3 separate regions of the Homo sapiens genome follow, and regions 2 and 3 are each linked to region 1. The links come from fine-mapping of genetic effects on gene expression. A gene starts in region 1. Each other region holds a variant in brackets. All regions are shown on one strand. Distances are from middle to middle.

The links. PIP is the estimated chance that this variant, and not a neighbour inherited with it, causes the effect. A credible set is the group of variants that fine-mapping cannot tell apart.
Region 2: its variant is the best candidate, but not a certain one, in a credible set for the expression of SPTLC1 in whole blood (INTERVAL, PIP 0.67).
Region 3: its variant is the best candidate, but not a certain one, in a credible set for the expression of SPTLC1 in whole blood (INTERVAL, PIP 0.54).

The regions. Positions count from the first base shown.
Region 1 is chr9:92,113,625-92,117,868 of GRCh38, reverse strand. It overlaps SPTLC1 (serine palmitoyltransferase long chain base subunit 1), which reads left to right and starts at 2,456. Exons shown (of 15, transcript NM_006415.4): 1 at 2,456-2,555. The coding sequence starts at 2,499. RefSeq lists an enhancer at 1,894-1,953.
Region 2 is chr9:91,939,739-91,943,982 of GRCh38, reverse strand. All of the region lies in intron 1 of ROR2 (receptor tyrosine kinase like orphan receptor 2), which reads left to right. Among named protein-coding and RNA genes, the nearest start is that of ROR2, 8.4 kb to the left of the region's middle. RefSeq lists an enhancer at 3,490-4,004. The variant T/CT (reference allele first, on the strand shown) is at 2,051.
Region 3 is chr9:92,052,925-92,057,168 of GRCh38, reverse strand. It overlaps SPTLC1 (serine palmitoyltransferase long chain base subunit 1), which reads left to right. Exons shown (of 15, transcript NM_006415.4): 8 at 1,675-1,764. Among named protein-coding and RNA genes, the nearest start is that of SPTLC1, 60 kb to the left of the region's middle. RefSeq lists an enhancer at 840-1,460. The variant CT/T (reference allele first, on the strand shown) is at 2,252.

The DNA of each region.
Region 1 (4,244 bases):
CACTGACACGGACTCCATATCGCCAGCTTATGTGGAAATGTAGCACATAGTGTAGCGGCATCATTATCTGGGGTAATACCTGAGGTTCATTGTCCCACAGCCATGGAAAACTAGGACGCGACACACCACAGTGAGGTTAAGAGCAGAAGTTTAATAGGCAAACGAAAGAGAAGAGCTATCTGTGCAGAGAAAGGGGTCCCAGAGAAAATGGGTTGCCAGTTCTGCGGTGAAACGCACAGGGTTTTATAGATGAGCTTGAGGAAGTGGCGTTTGATTTACGTAGGGAATGAAAGACTGGTTGGACCAGGTGTGCCATTTGCATAGTGCATGAAGAAGCTGGCCTTCCCACCCTAATATTTTATTCTGCAGATGGCTTCTCTACCTGACTGATGCCATGTTGCCTGTTCCTTCACTGTACACGTGGTGACAAAGAAAATGGAAGATGGAGTCTCCATATTGAACATACCTGGCTTCCAGGTAGTCTTTTTCTATCGGCACAACTGCCAGCATTCTCCCGTGCACTGCCAGCTTGCTTATCTATGTTTGTAGCTCAATTTTTCAGGCTGCTCTTTGCAAAAAAGAAATAATTTTGGGGTTGCTTTTTGTTCAGAAAGAAGCTCTGCTGAGGACTCTCTTACCTTCACTATCTGCCTAAATAATTTCTTTTTGGCTCCTGTATCAATAGCACTGGTACCATTTCAGAATTCTGGGGAAAGTCAGGGTTACTCAAATAAATGGCACTCAAAAAATTGTTATTCCTTTAGAAAAAAACATAATTAAGTCCCTTAACTCTCATTATCCAAAAATATAGTTTCCAGAGTAAAGAGCTAATTGCAAATAACAACAAACTGCTGCAAGAATGGTTGGAAACCATAGATGTGGTGAAGAAGGCCTTTCTAAGCAATATGCAGATCCAGAGGCAAAAAACAGACTGAAGCACTACATAAAATTTAAAATTAAAGTATGATGAAAGAGCAGAAACAACTAGGCGGCAACTGAGCAAAAATATTTTTCACATATGAAACAGAAAAATATAAGATATTCAGAATGTATAGAGTTCCTACAAATCCATAAGAAGGCAAAAATAACCAATAGAAAAATGGATTAAGAATATGAATTGGCGATTCATACAGTCTATAAATGCCAATAAACATATAAGAAGCTGCACAACCTCATGAGTAACCAGAAGCATCAATAATAAAGGATAGTGAGGTATCATTTTATCTCCATTAAACTGGCAAATTTTTTTAAAAGATTGATAATATCCATCATGGACTAGAGCATAGAAAAACTTCCAAATTATTTTAATTGGTTGAGCCATTTTGGCAGTACTTATCAAAATTAATAACGTGCATAGTCTTCAGATATATCCCATGTTGAAAAAACTGGTCAGAAAAACTCCAACATGCACAGAAAGATATACACACAAGGAACATCGACAGTTATGGCAGCATTATTTGTAATAGGGGAAAGGTGGGAACAACATAAGTATTCACCAATAGGGAAACGTTTACATAAAATGGAACGATGAATATACATAAATTATTCCATGGAAGTCTTCAGCCATTAAATATGAGATATATTAGGAAAAAAATGCTAGAAAAAAAATTTAAAAAAAGTTGTAGAAAAGTCTTGTCCCTATGATCTCAATTATATTTAAGAAATCCAATCCAATTAAGTATGTGCGCGTGCATACTGTTTGCATATGCATTGGAAGGCTCTAAAAGGTTCTTTACCAAACTGCTATATGATTTAATACCTGCAAAGCCTTGGCCTATGTCTGACAAAACAGGAAGTGCTATATGGGTTGGCTATTTTTGTGTATAATTATGCATTTCTTAATGATAATGCATTGCTGGATTACTTATGCTACTAAACGTAAACGTATTGGCCAGGCGCGGTGGCTCACGCCTCTAATCCCAGCACTTTGGGAGGCCGAGGCAGGCGGATCACCTGAGGTCAGGAGTTTGAGACCAGCCTGACCAACATGGAGAAACCCCGTCTCTACTAAAAATACAAAATTAGCCAGGCGTGGTAGCCCACGCCTGTAATCCCGGCTACTCGGGAGGCTGGGGCAGGAGAATCGCTTGAACCCGGGAGGCGGAGGTTGCGGTGAACCGAGATCACGCCATTGCACTACAGCCTGGGCAACAAAAGCGAAACTCCGTCTCAAAAAAAAAAAAATAAAGTAAACGTATTGCAATCATTTTAACTCTCTGCGCCCAGCTGATGACCAAGTGTAAGGCCCGTTCATTACTACTTTCTCCATCCTGAATCCAGCAGGGAGGGTAATAGGACACAAGGTAAACAATTCTTGGAAAAACTGCGGCATCCCACCTGACCCCGTCCAGCCTCCTGTCAACCAGTGCGCAAGTGCGAGTAGGCGGTGCCCAGCGCTCCGCCGCCCCGCCCTCTGCGGAGGTGATAACGACACTGAGCAGCGACGCGCACTTTTGGGACGCGCTTGTGACCCGCCTTCCGGAAGGAAGCGGCTAACTATGGCGACCGCCACGGAGCAGTGGGTTCTGGTGGAGATGGTACAGGCGCTTTACGAGGTGGGCTCCGCGCCATTAGCGGTCCGCGACCACACCCGGGCCCGGGGAGGGTGGGAGGACGCGTGTGGATTTGTGGCCTGAGACCTCGGCGGGACTGGCTCGGTCACGCCCAGACTCGGTGCCTCTTGCTGGAAGGACTGCCGGGAGCTTCTAGTCCCAGCGGTTGAGTGTAGGGAGGAACGGGCGGGGGCGGGGGCTGGGACTGAGGGTCTCGGTTTGAATTCTTATGCTCCGGGTCCCCTGGAAGCTCCGGAAAGGAACACGTGTAAGGGGACGCAGGAGACAGGTCTGCAAAAACCAGAGTTTAGACGGACGATAAAACGGAGTGGTGAAAATGAGTGGAACACCTTCGTCTGGGAAGGTCCTAAGGAAGTCAGCTCTTTGGAACTACGGTACAGTTCGTTGGGGAATAAAATTGTAATAAATTGGAGTTTGTTTTTGTCGAAAAGAAATCAAGTGACTTAGGATTTGTGAATAAAAAATAGTTTGTCATTCTTCTGCGTACATCAGTTTTCTGTCTTATAAAGATACAACTAGTTTAGTCGATTTTTATTTATTTATTTTTGTTTTTTTTTTTTGAGACGGTGTTTCGCACTTGTTGCTCAAGCTGGAGTGCAAGGGCGTGATCTCGGCTCACTACAACCTCCGCCTCCCGGGTTTAAGCGATTCTCCTGCCTCAGCTTCCCAGGTAGCTGAGATTACAGGCATGTGCCACCATGCCCGGCCAATTTTGTATTTTTATTAGAGACGGGGTTTCTGCATGTTGGTCAGGCTGGTCTCGAACTCCCGACCTCAGGTGATCCGCCCGCCTTGGCCTCCCAAAGTGCTGGGATTATAGGCTTGAGCCACTGCACCTGGCCGTAGACTTTTAAAGGAAGAATAGTTAAGAGTTTTTTGAAGCCTAGTTATTTCAGATACATAAGATAATAAGAAACCAGAATGTCAATCTTAGTGTTCATTCATTTAATAACTGAGAGTCCCCGTGCTGTCTTGCAGAGCTATTCATTGGGCACTGAAGAACTTATTTTATTTTATTTTATTTTTTAAAGACAGGGTTTCACTCTGTCGCCCAGGCTAGAGTGCAGTGGTGCGATCAGCTCACTGCTGCGTTGACCTCCCAGACTCAAGCGATCCTCCCACCTCAGACTCCCGAGTAGCTGGGACCACATACCACCATGCCCAACTAATCTTTTTTTTTTTTTAATAGAGACGGGGGCTTGCTGTGTTGCCCAGCCTGGCCTCGAACTCCTGGCCTCAAGTAATCCTCCTGCTTTGGCCTCCCAAAGTGCTGGGATTACAGGCATGAGCTACCACACCCAGCTGCAACTGAATTTTTAATTTAACTTAAATAGCCACGTGTAACTTAGTGACTGTCCACATTGGACCACACAGATCTAGATGCTAGGGATAGTGCGGTGAACAAATAGGCAGAAGTCCCTGTGCTTAAAGAGCTTACATTCATTTCAAGTGAATTTCACTTTACTTTTGATGATTTAATATCACCAAACTTAATATCACCGTCTACTGGTAGGGGTAATGACAGTGTCTTCCATTGCAGGACATACTGGGAATTTTATCTTGAAACAGCAGAGACAGCAGATGTGGCTCTGTCTTATGCTCATGTATTAAGTGATGCCCAGTATTAGGTTAACTGTAGTGACCTAAAATGAGCCACTAAAATTGAATGAT
Region 2 (4,244 bases), 170 kb after region 1:
CTGATCTTGGAGGAAAAGCTTTCAGTCTTTTAACATTGAGTGTGATGTTTGCTGGGCTTGTCGTATATGGCTTTTACTATGTTGAGGTGGTTTCCTTTCTATTAGTTTATTCTCATTTTTTGGTATATTTTTGACTTTTAGAACATGCTAACATTCTACAAGTTCAAAAAATAAATCACTAAGAATAGCAGGAAACTAGAATTGAATACAAAGAAGCACATAAATGCAAATGTGTTGCAAATGAGTAACATGACTACACAGATGGGGGAAAAGAAACCGTAATGTTGGACTCAGTGCTTTGACGGTGTATCCTCAGCCTACAGGAGAAACAACAACCTGAAAGCAAAACTGGCACCCTTCTTAGTAGGTTTGATTTTCATAGTGGTGTGGGTATATCCATTCTGAAATGACTTTGTGTGAATTGTGAGATTAGACAGATAAGAAGTGTGTTAATAGTGTTGTAGCCAGGGTGCTCACTGAGGAAGGAGGGAGATATAAGGATGGAATAGGGGAAGGCAAGGAAGAATCTGGAGGGGTTGAATTGGAATTGGAGGTATCAGTGTAACTCATGCTTTCATTTATATATATATTTGGTATATATTATGTTAAATTATGCACCGTAATTTGTAAAACATACTCTACACATAACAGTTATTTCTTAGCACCTCATTAGCAGTGAGCTTTCTTAGTGCCCAGATGTTGGTTTCTCAATACTGTTGCATCTTAAAGGAGCTAGAGAACCTTGGAGAAATGACTGAATATGGGATGGGGACAGGGAAAAATACACAATAAGCCTGAAACGTGTTCTTGTGTTAGAACGCAAGTGAGTGGTGAAAAGTGGTGGGGGCATGGCAGATGTACTCAGGGGCCAACTTGAAGGAGTTGCAGCCAAGTCTGGGACCATTTAGGCATCAGAATAAATAAAGACAAGCATGGATTATACAAGGAACAAAATAGGCATCCAGGACTCACCATTGATAATAAGTACATAACTATATGTATGAGTTTCTTAGGCCTGCTGTAGCAAAATGCCATAAACGGGGTGACCTAAAAACCAGAAATGTATTCTCCCACAGTTTTAGAGGCTAGAAGTCCAAAATCAAGGTGGCGGCAGGGCCACGATCCCTCCCAGGGCTCTAGGGGAGAAAACTTTTTTGCCTCTTTTAGTTCCTGGTGGCTCATGGTGCCCTTGGTTTGGAGCTATATCACTTTGACTTCTATCGCCATTTTCACATGACCTTTTATTGTAAGGACACCAGTGATTGGATTTAGGGACCACTGTAAATACAGGATGATTTAATCTCATGTTCCTTATTACTACTGGAAAGACTATTTCCAAATAAGGTCACTTTCTGAGCTTCTGGGTGGATAGGGAAACACTAATTTACTACAAAACCTAAGTGGGAGGGGTGGGGAAGAGAGGGCACTTCCTAGAGCAAAGTGCCAACTGATAAATGGGAGGCGAGTTGGGAATAATCACATTTTACAGCAATAACTGTACGGATTGATTTGGGCAGGCGTCATGAATGAGTGCTAAACTCATTAAAGAAGACATGTTTGATGAGGAGCAGGAAATGTCTGTGGTCTCAAAGGATTTCCCCACAGATTCCTTGTTGGCAAGGGACAGTTGCTAACTGTAGACTGGCGAGATTTGCATCCCAATACCTGGGTGGTCCAGGTTAATGCCACAGATTTGGGCAGATGGATGCCGTCCTTCCCAAGAGCATACATCATTTAGGTTGCTTTCTATCTGGGGAAGAGAGTCTGATTATGAGCAAAAATCAGCAAACGAAATGGAGGGACATTCTATGAAACAATGGTCTGTAGCAAAAATTGTCGAGGACATGAGCGATGAAACAGGGCAGGCCAGGTCCAGCTTGAAGAAGACCACAGGGGCCTGGTGTGGTGGCTCACGCCTGTAATCCTAGCACTTTGGGAGGCTGAGGCCAGCGGATCACAAGGTCAGGAATTCAAGACCAGCCTGGCCAACATGGTGAAACCTCGTCCTCACTAAAAATACAAAAGTTAGCCGGGCGTGGTGACATGTGCC[T/CT]GTAATTCCAGCTACTAGGGAGGCTGAAGCAGGAGAATCACTTGAACCCGGGAGGTGGAGGCTGCAGTGAGCCGAGATCGTGCCACTACACTCCAGTCTGGGCAGCAGAGCAACACCCTGTCTCAAAAATGAAAGAGAAGAGAAGAGAAGAGAAAGGAGGGCAGGGCGGGGCTGGGCGGGGTGGGGAGACAGTACAATACAGTACACCACAGGGTAGGTAGAGAAGACAGTACAATACAATACACCACAGGGACAAGGCAGTCCAGTGCATGTGCTGGCCCTGACCCTGTGCTGGAGGGAAAAACATGCTGTCGTGGATACTAACGGAACCACTGAGGAAATTGGAAGGTGAGCGTAAGTTATTTAAACGTGTTGTCAGACTTGTCTTTCCTGAGTTTGTTAATTGTGCAGAGGTGGTGTAAGAGGATGTCTGTACTCATAGGACATACACGCTGCCATGTTAAAGGATAAAGGGGCTTGATGTCTCCAGCCTACTATTGTCATCTCAGACCATGATAAAGCCCATGGGGCAAGAGTGACACATTAGTGAACCTGGGCAAAGAGTAGAGGGAAGTTTCATGCACCATTCTTGTAACTTCTCTGTAAAGGCGAAATGGTTTCAAAGTAAAGAATTAAGGCCGGGCACGGTGGCTCACGCCTGTAATCCCAGCACTTCTGGAGGCTGAGGCGGGGGGATCACGAGGTCAGCAGATCGAGACCATCTTGGCTAACACGGTGAAACCCCGTCTCTACTAAAAATACAAAAAATTAGCTGGGCACGGTGGTGGGCGCCTGTAGTCCCAGCTACTTGGGAGGCTGAGGCAGGAGAATGGTGTGAACCCAGGAGGCGGAGCTTGCAGTGAGCCGAGATAGCGCCATGGCAGTCTGGCCTGGGTGAAAGAGCGAGACTCCATCTCAAAAAAAAAAAAAAAAAAAAGAATTAAAAATGTTAAATTCTAACAATGGATGGCTGAAGCCAGTGCAATGAACAATGGAGTTTAGCACATGCTGTTAAAAGAAAGACTCAAGGCCCGGCGAGGTGGTGGCTCACGCCTGTAATCCCAGCACTTTGGGAGGCTGAGGAAGGTGAATCACCTGAGGTCAGGGGTTCAAGACCAGCCTGTCCAAAATGGTGAAACCCCATCTCTACTAAAAATACAAAAATTAGCCGGGGGTGGGGGCTGGGTGCCTGTAATCCCAACTACTCGGGAGGCCGAGACAGAGACAGGAGGATCACTTGGACCCAGGAGGCAGAGGTCACAGTGAGCGGAGATCGAGCCACTGCACTCTAGCCTGGGTGACAGAGCAAGACTCTGTCTCAAGAAAAAAAAAAAAAAAGAATTGCACGTTATGATTTTATTGGAAATGGTGTCACAGGGACTGAGGATGGATGCGATCCAGGTGCTTTTGAGGCCAGACAGCATTTCATTGAAGGGACTGAAAATCTCTGTCTTTGTCTAGTTTCTGGATTGCCCCAAGTTTTCTGATTTTTCTTTCTTAAGATTTTTATTATAGAAATTCCAACACACATAAAATTAGACGACTGCAGTGAACCGCTGTATATTTTTCACTCAGCTTCAACAGTTGCCACGTTCATTTCGTTTCATTTCCCCCGGCCTACTTAACAGTCCCCAGACAGCCTTAATTGTTTACCTGAAAATACTTCAGCATGAATGGTAAGAACTGTTTTTTTCACACCATCTCAATACTGTTATCAACAAGGAGCCCTGGTGTTGTCTGATACCCAGCCCTGCTGGAAATGGCCTTTCACACTTGATTTGCGCACAGCGGGGCTGAGTTGCCATGAATGCAGCTGTGCTCTGGGGTTCCCGTGGGCTTGGAAGCTCCGAATTCTGGAAGGTGTTGCTTCCCTGCATCACATAGGCTGTGGCCCTCTGGGTGCAGAGCCCAGGAACCTGGGCTTGGAGTGGCACTGAGTCTCTCTTGGACATCTTTGTGCAGGTGAATGTGGGGTGGGGCCCGGAGATTCAGGCCACGAGGCATCTGCTGAGCCTTGTTTAATCCAGCCCTTCCCAGTCCCGTTTATTCTGGAGCCCTCTTTTGGTGGGTGCTCTTGTTACCACCTCCTTCAGCACAGCCTGTGGCATGGACCAGTCTCCACTGTACTCAGAACACTGGCTTTATGAAAACAAATGCAGTATTAATGCGTAGAAAGGAGGGAGGAGGCACTTTC
Region 3 (4,244 bases), 61 kb after region 1:
ACAGCATAATGTTTTTAAAATCAGGTCCTAAAACTACAGTAAAATCCTGATTCTGAACAAAGTAATTTATATGTTTATACAAGAAAGACAAAAATTATCACCGTGTGGTATGATTAGCTGATTTATTTAATTGTTTTTTGTACTTTTCCATTTCCCAAGAATCCTACATTGAATATTTTTAAATCTAAGAAAATGTTTTTCCTTAAAGACAGGCAGAGGTAGCATGCCCTGTGTAGAAATTAGGGTGGCATCTCTTCATCCATCACTTCTAACATATTGCTAGCTCCCCAGCTTTCAGTTGTGAGTTGACAGAGTAAAGATGATTGAGCAACATCAGTGATATGTACTTTTTATTCCTCAACAAACTTTTTTTTTAGTGCTACTGCTGTGGGTTGTAAAATACCCCTTAAAGCATTGCTCTGATACTTTCTAATTCTGATCATTTCTAATTGTCCATTGGAGCAGAAACTTAGAGGCAAGAGATCTCTGAGTAAGAAGGTAATGGCAAACTCTATCTGTGGATCTCAGTATTTTTTGCAGTCCCACACACCTGAACCATGTACAGTTTCATACATGTGGGAGATTTATTAGTGACTTGCTCTGAGCAGAGTGTGTGAAGGTGTGTGTTTTTTGAAAAGATCTCTGCCGGGCGTGGTGGCTCAAAGCTGTAATCCCAGCAGTTTGAGAGGCCGAGGTCAGTAATCAAGAGGTCAGGAGTTCAAGACCAGCCTGGCCAACATGGTGAAACCCCATCTCTACTAAAAATACAAAAATCAGCTGAGCGTGGTGGCGGGTGCCTGTAATCCCAGCTACTCGGGAGGCTGAGGCAGAGAATTGCTTGAACCCTGGAGGCGGAGGTTGCAGCGAGCAGAGATGGCGCCACTGCACTCCCACCTGGGTGACAGTGAGACTCCATCTCAAAAAAAAGAAAAGGAGACCTCTCTACCCCACCACCTGGGAACATCATTGGACAAGCTCATAGTCAAATTTTACTTGATCCGATAATACATCAGTGGGGAGTGAGGAGGGAACAGGGTTGCCCCTTTTTTTGGGAGGTGAAGGAAAACGGTTTGAGTTTTTTAACTTTTTGTTATGGAAAAATGCCAACATATAAGAAGGAAACACAGTGGTATAGTGAAGCCCCCTGTACCCTTCTCCCAGCTTTGTTATCAGCATTACATCATTCTTGTGCCATCTGTTCCTCACCCCATCTTCATGATGATGACCTTCATTATAGTTGTTTTGGGTAAAATTGACAGACATTGAATCACATGAATGCAGCCATACAATTTTGACCAGTGATTATACCCATGTAACCCAGGAATGTCAGCCCCATTATGATGTAAAACATTCCCATTTCTTTAGAAAGTCCCTTAGGCCCCTTCCCAGTTGGAGGTTTGGAGGGTTTTGTTTGTGTTTTAATATTCTCAGAGGGCCTAATTAGTTTGTGTGTGTGGCGGGTCACCTAGCTAATGCTGTGAGCTGAAAAACGTCTGAGAGAAGATAGTACTGTTGTTCATCTCAAAATAACCCATCACAAACACTGAGCTTTCAATTCATTCAGAATATTTTTTTAGGAATAAATCTTGTAAGGTGAAAGTGCTGGGGAATATGTAACAGATCTTGTCTTCAGAGTTACTGAAATGTAAGATGTCTGCTTTTTCTCTTTTAAAGAATCCTCGCAAGGCTCGTGTAACTCGGCGTTTCATTGTAGTAGAAGGATTGTATATGAATACTGGAACTATTTGTCCTCTTCCAGAATTGGTAAGCAACCATGTTCAGCTGTAATTTTAATATTTGGACTATTTGACAGATGTGCCTTTTGTTTATGACCGCTTTTAGTGTATAACGTCTGCGTTGCTTTGCGCATTAGGCCTCATAAGCATATTTTGCTCAGATCAGGGAAGAAGAACAACACTGAATGCCAGTGCTGGCCTTCAAAGAGTAATCAAGACTGCTCTGTTGCCCAGGCTGGAGTGCAGTGGTGTGAACACAGCTCACTGCAGCCTTACCCTCCTGGGCTCAAGTGATCCTTCCACCTTAGCTTTCTGAGTTAGCTGGGACTACAGGCACATGCCACCACACCTGGCTGATTTTTCCCTTTTTTGTGGAGTAGGGGTCTCACTGCGTTACCCAGGCTGTTCTCAAACTCTTGGGCTCAAGCGATCCTCCTGCCTCAGCCTGCCAAAGTGCTGGTATTACAGGTATGAGCCACCACACCTGGCCAAAACTTAGCTTTAGCTTTTTTTTT[CT/T]CCCCCGCAAGACAGTCTTGCCCTGTCGTCAGGCTGGAGTGCAGTGGCGCCATCTTGGCTCACTGCAACCTCCTCCCCGAGGTTCAAGCAGTTCTCCTGCCTCAGCCTCCCGAGTAGCTGGAACTATAGGCGTGCGCAGACACCCCCAGCTAATTTTTGTATTTTTAGTAGAGACGGGGTTTCACCATGTCGGCTAGGATGGTCTCAATCTCTTGACCTCATGATCTGCCCGCCTGGGCCTCCCAAAATGCTGGGATTACAGGCATGAGCCACTGAGTCGGCCATACGTAGCTTTTAAGATCCAGCTTTATTTAGGTGAAATCAACGTATAAAATACACCTACTTTAAGGGTAAAGTTTGATAAGTTTTGACAGATGTATATACATCTGTATCACTGCAGCCATCCACCACCACAGTCAAGATACGGAATATTTTTATGTAAGACAATGTTTATCCAGAAAGAAAACTTTATCCAGAAAGCTTCCTGATGCCTCTTGGTAGTGAGTACCCATGTTGGCCCCAGACAGCCATTAATCTACTTTCTATTCCTGTAGATTAGTTTTACCTTTTGTAGAATTGCATATGAATGAAAGCATAGCTTGCTTTTTTGTTTTTTTGTGTTTTGTTTTTTGTTTGAGATGGAGTTTCACTTATGTTGCCCAGGCTGGAGTGCAATGGCACGATCTCGGCTCACCGCAACCTCTGGCTCCTGGGTTCAAGTGATTCTCCTGCCTCAGCCTCCCAGGTAGCTGGGATTACAAGCATGTGCCACCATGCCCGGCTAATTTTGTATTTTTAGTAGAGACAAGGTTTCTTCATGTTGGTCAGGCTGGTCTTGAACTCCCAACCTCAGGTGATCCACCCTCCTTGGCCTCCCAAAGTGCTGAGATTACAGGCGTGAGCCACCACGCATGGCCAAAACTTAGCTTTTTAATAGTGAAAGCAGCATAACTGTTTTTAGAAACCATGACCATTGAGATTTCCTTTATTGAGGTGAAATTCACATAACACAAAATTAACCAATTTAAATTGTACAGGACAGTGACATTTATTACATTTACCATGTGTGCAACCATCAACTTTAGGTCAAAAACCTTTTCATGACTCACGAAGAAGACCTCAAACCCATTAAACAGTCACTCCCCATTTTCTTCTCCCTCTAGCTCCCAGCAACTACCAATCTGCTTTCTGTCTCTATGGATTTACCTTTTCTGGTTATTTCCTATAAATGGCATCATATAATATATGACCTTTTCTTTCTGGCTTCATTCACTTGATGTTTTTAAAGTTCATTAACATTGTATACCATGTATCAGTATTTCATACCTTTTTAATGCTGAGTTATAGTCCATTGCATGGATAATACCACGTTTTGTTTTATATGTTCATCCACAGATGGATATTTGGGTTCTTTCTACCTTTTTGCTATTGCAAATAGTGCTGTTGTGAACATTTGTGTACAGGTATTTGTTTGAATTCCTGTTTTCAGTTCTTTTATGTATATATCTAGCAGGGTAATTGCTGGATTATATGGTAATTCTGTGTTTAACTTAATAAGGAACTGACATACTGTTTTCAACAGCGATTGCACCATTTTACATTCCTATCAGCTATATACCAGGGTTACAGTTTCTCTACATCTTTGTCAGCACTTATATTTTCCAGGGTTTTTTGTTGGTTTGTTTTAGCCACCCTAGTGAGCATGAGGTAGTATCTCACTGTGGTTTTGATCCTGTTTCCCCCAAATGGCTAATGATGCTGAGCCTCTTTTCTTGTTTTTTTTTTTGTTTGTTTGTTTGTTTGGCCATGCGTATACCTTTGGAGACATATCTATTCAGGTGCTTTGCCCATTTTTTAAATTGGGTTGTTTTTTTGTTTTTAAAAGAATTCCTTGTATATTCTGGATACTAGATGTTTATCAGATACATGATTTGCAAATATTTTCTCCTATTTTGTGGGGGTTTGTTTCATTTATTTGATACTGTCCTTTGA